Homo sapiens: one gene and its partners. The protein of the gene in region 2 binds, or shares a complex with, the protein of the main gene of each other region. Each region holds a gene or a part of one and is shown on either strand. Other genes may lie near its edges.

What was found.
Region 1: HNRNPU (region 2) and SYNCRIP share a complex: the UniProt entries of both Homo sapiens proteins name them as parts of the coding region determinant (CRD)-mediated complex.
Region 3: HNRNPU (region 2) and IGF2BP1 share a complex: the UniProt entries of both Homo sapiens proteins name them as parts of the coding region determinant (CRD)-mediated complex.

The regions. Positions count from the first base shown.
Region 1 is NC_000006.12:85,636,265-85,640,088, forward strand, and holds part of SYNCRIP (heterogeneous nuclear ribonucleoprotein Q), read right to left. Parts: intron 1,093-3,824; coding exon 979-1,092; intron 880-978; coding exon 703-879; intron 1-702. UniProt on the Homo sapiens protein: Heterogenous nuclear ribonucleoprotein (hnRNP) implicated in mRNA processing mechanisms. Component of the CRD-mediated complex that promotes MYC mRNA stability.
Region 2 is NC_000001.11:244,857,929-244,861,752, reverse strand, and holds part of HNRNPU (heterogeneous nuclear ribonucleoprotein U), read left to right. Parts: intron 1-1,278; coding exon 1,279-1,418; intron 1,419-2,378; coding exon 2,379-2,478; intron 2,479-2,911; coding exon 2,912-3,024; intron 3,025-3,478; coding exon 3,479-3,742; intron 3,743-3,824. UniProt on the Homo sapiens protein: DNA- and RNA-binding protein involved in several cellular processes such as nuclear chromatin organization, telomere-length regulation, transcription, mRNA alternative splicing and stability, Xist-mediated transcriptional silencing and mitotic cell progression.
Region 3 is NC_000017.11:49,042,385-49,045,984, reverse strand, and holds part of IGF2BP1 (insulin-like growth factor 2 mRNA-binding protein 1), read right to left. Parts: intron 2,558-3,600; coding exon 2,435-2,557; intron 2,019-2,434; coding exon 1,899-2,018; intron 995-1,898; coding exon 920-994; intron 96-919; coding exon 1-95. UniProt on the Homo sapiens protein: RNA-binding factor that recruits target transcripts to cytoplasmic protein-RNA complexes (mRNPs). This transcript 'caging' into mRNPs allows mRNA transport and transient storage.

The DNA of each region.
Region 1 (3,824 bases), on a different chromosome or scaffold from region 2:
CGAAACCCCATCTCTACTAAAAATATAAAAATTAGCCTGAGCGTGGTGGCAGGCGCCTATAATCCTAGCTACTCGGGAGGCTGAGGCAGGAGAATCACTTGAACCTGAGGGGTGGAGGTTGCAGTGAGCCGAAATCATGCCACTTCAGCCTGGGCAAGAGAGAGAAACTTGGTCTCAAAAAAAAAAGAAAAGAAAAAAGAAAAATTTCCTTTTTAAAAAAGTTGGAAAGATTACCAGGTCCTTACCTAACATCTGGTATTTTTAAATCAAACATTGCCACTCACCATAAAATCTTTTGTTTCATCAACTAGAAATGTATCACAATGTCTTTTGTGAATTATTTAAGAAAAAGAGATGGCTCAGGTATGGCCAGGAAGTATGAGAGCTCTTACCACAGTTACTTTTCTTAATCTTTTCACATTCCTATAAATTTAAACAAACACACAAAAACGTCACTAAGCCAGATGTTTATAAGAACCAATTGCTAGGAATTCTACCATGCCGCCTTTTAGATGCTGAATCCTATCAACTATACATGCAAAGAATAACACTACAATGCTTGCACAGTGATGTGGGAAAAAAAAAACCTGCCTAAATCAGTACTTCAAAAAATGTTTGGTAAACTCTTAGGCACACTAAGAAAAAAACTTGATATTAAAGACAGTGAACGTGAAAACTGAAGGGGAAAAAAGGACAACTTACCAGTTTAACAGCCTCCTGAGCTGCTTCTTTTGTACAAAAAGTGACAAACGCATAACCTCTATTGAGACCAGTGAGTGGATCCATCATTAGACGAAGATCCCATATAGGTCCAGCTTTCTCAAATAATGGAACAAGTTCATCCTCAAATAGATCTCTTGGGATCTTTCCCACAAATATCTGTAAATTAAATATTAAGTAAAAACCATGGAGAATTGCTTTAGGAAACCAGATACCTGTGCTTTTACTACAAAAGGTACAAGTTTTTAGTTGCTTTACCTCAGTGCCAACAGAAGGCTGCTGACCTGAATAAACGGAATCTGGAGGTGGTCCTCCATACTTCCTCTGTCCAGTGGTCACATCAAGTGTGTAGCCTGTTCTTTCCAAGAGTGCCTTGAAAAGTTCAAACGTCATTAATACATTTAATTCACTAGACCACACCCATATATTTAGCAGTTAACATCCATCTTGCTCAAATCTTTCCAATTATCTTGGCATGTTCCCTTATAAAAACAGGTTTGTGATGTCTGTTTTAAAATTTCCCCTTAAATGTGTACTTGTTATACTCCTAAATTATTATCAGAAGTCCAGGGTCCTGTTCAAATTACTTTCTAGTCTCCACTTAATTACTGAATAGTGTGCTTAATGGACAACAAAAAGTTAAGACCAATCCATCAGCAACTTTCAAGACAGGATGTATTACTATGTTAATACCATCTTAAAAAATGATTGTACCTAATTTGGTTGAGCATCTTTCAAATCTGGATCTCTCACCCAATAAATTCCCTATAAACCCCACTCCTAGGTACATACTGCCATTCTGGGCATTGTGCCAACCTCAGAAGAAATTACACTTCCCATACCAAGTCTAGAAACTTGGGAGCTACAGGGAAAAAAAATCTCCTATTATTATTTGACATTTACGTGCCATATTTCATGGGATAGCATGGGTCCTTCAGAAAAAAGTAACAGCCAAAACGACTTTTAAAAACTTTATGAAACTGCAACGTTACATAACCTCTACATTTTAACTCCCAAAAAGTAACTGTTAAAATTTACACAACTCATATTTACTCAGAGCATTAGGTGTTTATTCCTTATTCTAGGCAAAGTATAGAAAGAAGTATAGGCTGGGTGCAGTGGCTCACACCTGTAATCCCAGCACTTTGGGAGGCCAAGGCGGGTGGATCAGGACATCAGGAGCTCAAGACCAGCCTGGCCAAGATGGTGAAACCCTGTCTCTACTAAAAATACAAAAAATTAGCCAGGCGTGGTGGCACGCGCCTGTAATGCCAGCTACTCAGGAGGCTGAGGCAGAGAACTGCTTAAACGCTTAAACCTGGAGGGGCGGAGGTTGCAGTGAGCGGAGATCGCGCCACTGCACTCCAGCCTGGATGACAGAGCAAGACCCCATCTCAAAAAAAAAAAAAAAAAAAAAAAAAAAAAGGTACACTCCTCCATTATCTGAAGGAAAAAGTCAAGAATTATTCCCCTTCTCCACTGTCTCAACCACAAAGCACAAAAGTGGTTTTCTAAACAAAACCAATTTTATTAGCTAGGACATTCTGAAATAAAAACAGACTAATCCTAGCTATCTGACAAAATTTATCAAAATGCATAATCTAGGGTCACCTCAGTCTCTGAAAATTACTGGACAGATTTTTAACATTTTCTACTCAAAGGACACTAACTGTTTATGAAAAATACTGTAATTAATAAAAACATTCATAAACTTGCTCACATCTATAACATAAACTAAATGAGTAATAGCTCATCTTTCCATTTTCTCACATGTAATCCCTATGCTATAAACGGATTTTTTAACCTTAATAGTTAAGACCCAAATAACACTTTTTGTCAATCCATAAAAACAAAAAGGAAAAACTTATTCCCTCTGTCAAACTTCCTCTAAAAATGTCTCTATGCCTTTTTACCACAACTTAGCTCTCATTGAAACTGTAAGCAGCCAGGCATGGTGGCTCACACCTGTAATCTCAGGACTTTGGGAGGCCAAGGTGGGTGGGTCACGAGGTCAAGAGATTGAGACCATCCCGGTCAACATGGTGAAACCTCACCTCTGCTAAAAATACAAAAATCAGCTGGGCCTGGTGGCACCCACCGGTAGTCCCAGCTACTCGGGAGGCTGAGGCAGGAGAATTGCTCGAACCCGCGAGGTGGAGGTTGCAGTGAGCCAAGATCACGCCACTGCACTCCAGCCTGGGTGACAGAGTAAGACTCTGTCTCCCAAAAACAAACAAACAAACAAACAAAAAATTAAGCCACCCCCTTGCAAAAAAAACTGAAAGCTAAAAGTCACAAACTAAAAGTTTAAAAACTTTAGTTCTAGCTCACCAATGCAAACTTGATTACAACTGAATTACAATGGAGACAACTATACTCCACTTTTATGGAAAAACTAGATTTACAGATCAAACTCAATTCACTCACAGCTAGATCTGTGAAAGCCTCCAATTCATGGTTGTCTTAAACAGCTAACTCCATATACCAACCTTTTCCATATTCTAGGCTTTCCCTGTTTCCACACCACTACAACAATGCTCAAGGCCTATACCCTTAACTGATTTTCTTAAACCATACGCTTGGCTCAAGAGCACTGGCACACTACAAAGCACACCAGGTTAAAAAGTAATACAATCACCACATTGTCTATAAATTAGAAAACTCACCAATATAAATATCAAAACCAAGCTGAATTTGAAGCCATTCACCATGATTTTAAACCAAAAAAAAAGCCTCCTCCTCCTAGCCTCAGTTTCTCATCTACATACCCACACTAAACAATCTTATTGTCAAAGCTGCTTTGAGAAATAGTCTAATAATCCATACTGATGGAAGTGGAGGGCAGCAGGGTTAACATTCTAAATTCATTGGGGTTTGAGACTCCTAAAAAAAAAAGCCAGTTGCCAAATGTACATTCTCCATCAGTATTTCAACTGTCAATAAGCTGGCTTTGCAGCTTTTCAAAAAATATTCTAGAGGTATCATGGGTGTGTTTCTTTATACTAGGACTACCAATAGAACAGATTTAAACATCAGTAGCTGGATAACATGATAAACTTCACAGCAAATTGCTTTAGAAACAAATAGTTTAAAAAAACTTAAAA
Region 2 (3,824 bases):
TTTTTTTTTTGTTACAAAAAAACGTAGTTGGTTTAGTGATGAGAATGTACAACTCTGGGTGTGATAAATAGACCAAAGGATAAAAATAACTGTTTCAAAAGTATCAGCTATGGTGTCAGCCTGCTGTGTTAGATGGAAGGCATTGGAGCTTAGCTTCTCATGTTTTCTTGTACAAATTGGCTTTATTCAGATTTGTAAGAGTGTCAATGTAAAACTCTTTCTTACTGGAATATCCTTTACAGAAGGTTGAGATAGTCATCTGAGCCTTTTTAAAAGAAAAAACTGCAGGTGAAAAAGGAGTTAGTTGATGTGAAAGTTTTAGTGAAATTCTGGGTTGTATAAATAAGTTGCTAGGAATTGGCAAGGTAGTGAAGTGGTGACTCACACAGGTAATGTAATTGTTAGATTTTTTAGCAAATCAGGAATATGTCAATATAAGTACAATGTTGAATTCAAACAATCTGTTGAATTAAATTCTGTTGATTAGAATAACTCTAATTTAAGAAAAATTCCAAACTGTAGATTTATTTTTCTCTGATCAGTAAAAAGAAAATGAGTTCCAGCTTGACTTTAGCTGTTCAAGTGAGAAGTCTGAGGAAGTGCATGTTAATGAGCCAGTGACCCATAGGTAGCTGGGTTAAAGACACTTTGGATTTGGATAATCCGGGAAGCAATTAATCCCTAATTGTTGAACAGGCAGTCCTGGGTAAAGAGGACCTAAAATGCTGCACTATTAACAGCATTAGACGGCCAGGTTTGTACTTCATAGTTTTAGGCTGTCTTCTTCACAAGTTTTAGAAAAAGAATTTAGGAGCTAGAGCCCTGGTGCAGGATCAACAGCAGCTCATACTCCTATTTTAAAATAATTTGGTCGTGGCCTCCCTTCAGTTTTAATGTGGCACTGGTAAATCTACCTGGTTCTGGCATGCTTCACTTTGATTTCCTGCTATCCTCTACTGCTTGCCTCTAAATCAAGGTAAAGAGCAGAGCAGGTATGTATTAATGTCACATTGTCTTGATTATTTTAAATACTTAAAATATACATGTTAAACCTTGGTATTAGTTTCACAGGCAGTTTACTTTTCAGTACATAATTTAACAGGAGTGACTTGGTGGGAGTGGGGCTTTAAACTGAAAATTGGAACAACAGCATGATGTGGAGAAAAGTTGTGCAGCATTAAGAAGTACATGCAAAAATTAAGTAACCAAGTTTTGTCTACATAGCAGATATGTTTACATTGGATGTCAAAAGTAACACAGTATTTGATATAATTACAGATAATTGTGATCTACATTTTAAAATATCAAGAGATCGTCTCAGTGCTTCTTCCCTTACAATGGAGAGTTTTGCTTTTCTTTGGGCTGGAGGAAGAGCATCCTATGGTGTGTCAAAAGGCAAAGTGTGTTTTGAGATGAAGGTAAATGCAATTTTATGATTTGTTTGTTTGTTTGTGGAGACAGTCTCACTCTGTTCCCTAGGCTGGATTGCCGTGGTGCGACCTAGGCTCACTGCAACCTCCGCGTCCTGGGTTCAAGCGATTCTCCTTGCTTCAGTCTCTCAAGTAGCTCGGACTAGAGGCACACACTACCACACCTGGCTAATTTTTGTATTTTTAATAGAGATGGGGTTTCACCACGTAGGCCAGGCTGGTCGCCAACTCTTGACCTCAGGTGATCCACTGTCTCGGCGTCCCAAAGTGCTGGGATTACAGGCATGAGCCACTGTGCCCAGCCTTTTTTTTTCCTTTTTAAAATAGTGACAAGGTCTCACCATGTTGCCCAGGCTGGTCTTGAACTCCTAAGCTCAAGTGATCTGCCCGCCTGAGCCTCTCAGAATGCTGGAATTACAGGTGCTTCATACTGCTAAGTTATCAAAGGTACTTATTTTTGAAGCTTCCTGTAAATTAAAAGAGGAGCTTGGAACCTTCATTTTGTTGTGACAGTTAATCACGGTTGTTATGTTAGAACTTGCCATGCAGAGCTAGGCGATTTTTTATTTAGGGTACTTCATTTTTATCAAGCATTTGAAAGGGCCACCAAAGAGTTAAAAATAAAATTTGGTTACATTACTGCTTTTGTTGGTGAGAAAAACATTAATTGTATCCTTTAATTGGCTTTAAGTTAAAGACTGACAACATGAACTTTAAAAATATTAAGTATTCTTTTAAATATGGGTCAAATAAGTATTTAACTCTTTAAATTTCAAGTTATAAGCACATCAGTTTAAAGTTCTTACAAATATTGGGGGTGGGCTAGAGTGTGCCTTCTTTGTATTTATAGCTAGAGGAAGATTAGCCCGTGGCGCAATGAAATATGCGAGAGTTAAGGGGTTACCTCCTTGGTGTATTATTTTAATTATTTAATGATTTGACTTTCAGGTTACAGAGAAGATCCCAGTAAGGCATTTATATACAAAAGATATTGACATACATGAAGTTCGTATTGGCTGGTCACTAACTACAAGTGGAATGTTACTTGGTAAAGCTTCTTTTTGACTGATGTGGGCTCATGAATGTTCAGGAGGGTCTGATTTCAGTGTTTTTTAACTAGAGGGCATTCTAAGCCTTTTGTCTGTTTTTATCTATTCTGTTAATACTTCAGACAGGTAATATTAGCACATAGTAGGCACAGGCTACATTTTAGTTTTTGTTCCTTTATTAGAAGTTTATGACCAATGGTTGAAATAAAATCTTACCCGTGATATGCAAATCGTCAACTAATTTGGTCTCTGCGTATATATCCCTCCTAACTTCCATCAATTCTGGTACAGAGATAGAAAAGTAATAGTGTCAGTGACAGGTGATTAGGTTATATGCTTATTTCTCTTGTAGCCTACATCTTAAGTAGTAAAATAGATGAGTCTTTGGACTATTTTAAACATCTACTTCATGAAGATTAATTATTTTCTTAGGTGAAGAAGAATTTTCTTATGGGTATTCTCTAAAAGGAATAAAAACATGCAACTGTGAGACTGAAGATTATGGAGAAAAGTTTGATGAAAATGATGTGATTACATGTTTTGCTGTAAGTTAAAGCTAACTTTCTATGTATAAATGGCAAAGTTAGTAGCTATATCTAGGAACTTTAAAGAAGCTTTACTGAGGTCAGTTTTCAATATGAGCAACAAAATACACCAGTCCCTGGATTAGTGTAAAGACTTCATTCAGCAGTTGAATTGGGAAAACACAGGACATTTTTGAGGAACTCACTAATTCATTTTGACTGAAAACAGTGAACATGAAATTGACCTAGAAAATTCAGTCTAGCTTCTAGGTCAGTATTGTTTCTGGTTCTGGAGATACGTGCTTCATGGTTTACAACCATCAGATTTCTTAACTGTGTAGCCCTTAAAGGCCACCTAATAGTTCTTTAACCTGTAGCTTCCACAGGATAAGCTTTGCTCCTAATTTTAATTCTTAGTTTTTTAGAAAGTTTAAGGAAGCAGATTTTAACTGTTGAATTTTTTTCTGTGTAACAGAACTTTGAAAGTGATGAAGTAGAACTCTCGTATGCTAAGAATGGACAAGATCTTGGCGTTGCCTTCAAAATCAGTAAGGAAGTTCTTGCTGGACGGCCACTGTTCCCGCATGTTCTCTGCCACAACTGTGCAGTTGAATTTAATTTTGGTCAGAAGGAAAAGCCATATTTTCCAATACCTGAAGAGTATACTTTCATCCAGAACGTCCCCTTAGAGGATCGAGTTAGAGGACCAAAGGGGCCTGAAGAGAAGAAAGATTGTGAAGTAAGGGATTTTTTTTTTTTTAACTGTGGCATTTGAATATTGCTTGCCTGGCACAAAATGACATTTAGAAGAACTAGATGAT
Region 3 (3,600 bases), on a different chromosome or scaffold from region 2:
GATGCTGGCACACGTATGTGGGTCTCCAGCTTCACTTCCTCCTTGGGACCAAAGAAGTTCTCCTCCTTGAGTTTGCCATAGATTCTTCCCTGAGCCTGAGAAGAGGAGGTAATTGTTAATCAGTGGTTCATATATCTGTGACAAAAGAGAAAAGTGGGAAAAAGGAAGCTCCAGCCCATATTTTCTGGCCCACAGGCCCTCCCCATCCTAGGCGGGCTAACCATCTAAGGCAGGTGAAGGGCAAGGCTCAGGTGGGCAGCTTGTCAGCATTCCTTCTGCTTAGCTATCATACTGGAGACCCTGGGTGGAGATTATGAGTTATGAGTAATTGAATAAACACTTCCCAAGGGAAAAAATAGTTCCCAGAGGAATCTAATTCACAAGCTACAAACCAGACCTATGGAATCTGGACGTGGCACTGACCAGCATTTCAAGGCCCTGAATGGCAACTAATCAAGTCACACAGAGGGCAGGCCTGTCTGACTCTCCAGTGGCCCAGAGAGCTGTCCCAGTCCTCTATCCTCACATATGTTAGGTTAAGCTAGTTGATGGTTCATTTTTTGGCTGTCTGATCAGAAGTTCAAGAACCTTAGGATTTAGTGGGGACATAAAAGATGAGAATTTGGCATTAAAGGCCTTCCTTAGAAATGACAGCAGAGTGCAAATAAGATGCCCTCAGACTTCTTTCCTTCCCATCTTCTTCTGTGGACCTTAAAAAGGGAAGACGAAGTCAACAGAAATCCAGTTTGATGTCAATTTGAAAATAGCTCTGCAGCCCTTTATCCTGCATGGAAGGCTTAAAGATGTGATGAGGACTTGACAGCTAACGGGAAACTGACCCAGCCTTTTTCCTACCTCAGGGGAAATACCCAACCTCAATTCCTCCATGTTCAGCTTGGAAAACAATAAAGACCAAAACCTTGAATTGGGCCTCTGGCGGTCCAGTGATGATAACCATACGAACTTTGGAGTCAGGTGTTTCGGGTGGTGCAATCTAAAAAGCAAAAAGCTAGTCAATGAGGGACCCTCTATGGGAAGACCCCCACCATGTCCACTTCATCCAGTTCCCCTTCTACCACCCTTACTCCCAACTACCCATTCTGAAGACTTAGGGGAGGAAGAACAAAGACCCTGAAGCCCACATCATTACGCCTTCACACCAGAATTATTAGGAGGGCAGAGGTGGTCAGTTAGAAGGATTGGCTTCAATGACACTTTCTAAGTAGGGCCTCCTGCCCCCTCCACCTACCAATCTCCCAGAGAGGTTTCAGTGGAGTCTTGCCAACAGGCAAGGACACAAATGAAATGACCAACGGATAGAGGGCAGTGACTGCACCTCCACTGGAGAACAATCAAGGTTTTTGCTCAAAGCTTTTAAGACAACTAAAGCAACCGGATTTAGGTTTGTGAAACTCTAACAGCATCCTTGTTTCACTATGACAGATTCTCCCTTCTCTCTCCCCTGGACCTTGGCCAGGGAAGGTGACAGACAACTAACACTTACTTGGTGTTAGTATGTGAGCGAAGGGCTTTGGCTGCGTAGCCTCATAATATTGTACTGACGAGGAAAGTGAGGCTCAGATCATATAGTGTATTGGGGGAAGGGGTGATGAGATGGATCTTGGATTTGAACCCATCAGTTTGTGTTAGAACCTAAGTTCTCTTTCTATGTTATAACCCTGCCCCTGCCCAGCCTGAAAACCCAGAAGCACTGAAGCCATCCCATGGGGACCAAGCAAGATCAAAAACAAAGAGGACTTCGATTCCATGGGGGAAAGGTCCCTCATATGACACACAGAATTCTCAAATGAGTAGGGGGAATATGGGAGAAAGTGCAGAGTGATAAAAGCAGAGACCCCTCCCTTTCCAGAAACAGGAAGACCCACAGAGCAGATCACCTTGATGGAGGCGCTGGCAAACCGGGAGAGCTGTTTGATGTGCTGCCCCTTCTTGCCGATGATGGCGCCCACTGCCTGGGCGGGGATAAACACCTGCACCATCTCCTGCTCGGGAGCCTGCTGCCAGGATAGGAGGCGTTGTTACCAGGGGGCCCAAGTAGCATGGCCCAGAAACCCTCCACTCCCCTGCCTTGCATCCTCAAGGAGGAAGGAGTACAGGCACCAAACCGCCACCCTGGGCTGCCAAGGGATGCTGTGAGCTCTTTAGCTCTTCCTATGCCCAGTAGGGCTAAAGGGAAGAGGCCAGGAGAGAGTAAGGGAACAGTGCTGTCTATGCCCCGGGAGCATTCTAGGCAGACATTTGGGAGCCTCAGAGCCAGTGGCTAGGAGCACTGGAGAGGAGGGATGCCTCTGAGACCTTCCTTCCCTCTCCCTGCAAACTTGCCAAGCATCCAACTCCCAGAGCATGCTGAGTCCCCCTTAAGGGAGGCCACATATGGGCCCAGGGATCCCGTGTAATAAGATCTTCCACCTACCATAAAGGAGCTATAGGGAGCAGCCCCAGTAACGCTGCTGGGAGGCGGCGGGACTGCGCTGGATGAAGCTGGGAAAAGACCTACAGCAGCCAGGTTCAGGCCAGGGATCAGGTGAGACTGCAGCTGGGGAAGAAAGATGAGGAGGAAGAGTCAGCACACCCTGACAGGGGCTTGTGTGTGACCCCCGCTGTATAAAAGGCGAGTAGCCCCAGAGGCAAGTGGGCCAAAAACATGAATTACATACTTTTCCACAAAAGCCTATTCTGTGCTTTTCATACACTCTCACCTACACACTTCGGGTGTGGAATTTTAAGTGATATGATGTTCTCACTGGACTAACGGCTAGCAATTGCAACCAGAAATGCCAAACAGTTGTACACCCTCAGGAGTCCTTCCTCTCTGGCTGTTCAGACTGCTGGAGACAGACGATAGACCCATGACACTATACTATAACCCCCTATATGAGAAAAAGGCGTGGAGACAGAGCTCCATTGGACTTCTAGGACTCTGATTCTAAACATTTTTGGTCCTGTACCCCAACCCCAAGTCTCCTTTAAAAATCAGATGAGTTGTGTGCAGTGGCTCATGCTTATAATCCTAGTACTTTGGGAGGCCAAGGTAGGAGAATCGCTTGAGCCCAGGAGTTCTAGACCAACCTGGGTGACACAGCAAGACCCTGTTTCCAAAAAATAAAATTTTAAAAAATTAGCTGGGCATGGTGGTGTACACCTGTAGTCTCCTAGGTACTTGGGAGGCTGAAGCAGGAGTATTCCTTGAGCCCAGGGGGTCAAGGCTGCAGTAAGCTATGATTGCGCCATTGTGCTCCAACCTGGGCAACATACCAAGACCCTGTCTCAAAAAAATAAAATAAAAATCAGATGAAAACGATGGACCCCCTCATTTCAATAAAGTGCACACAAACACAAATTGTACACATACTTGGAATCACAGGACTCAAAGCCCAAGATTGGACCCCTACTCTAGGAACCAGGTGAAGAATCCTTGCTAATTAAATACTATTTAAATACTATTTCTGATAGTCGAAGTCCAAAAGCATCAACTAAAGCTCCAAGGCCACACGGCACAGGGCACATGTCCATCACCCTGCACCCCACAAGCTGCTGTTGCTAAGACTCAGGAAAGGATAAGCAGAGGGTACTACCCAG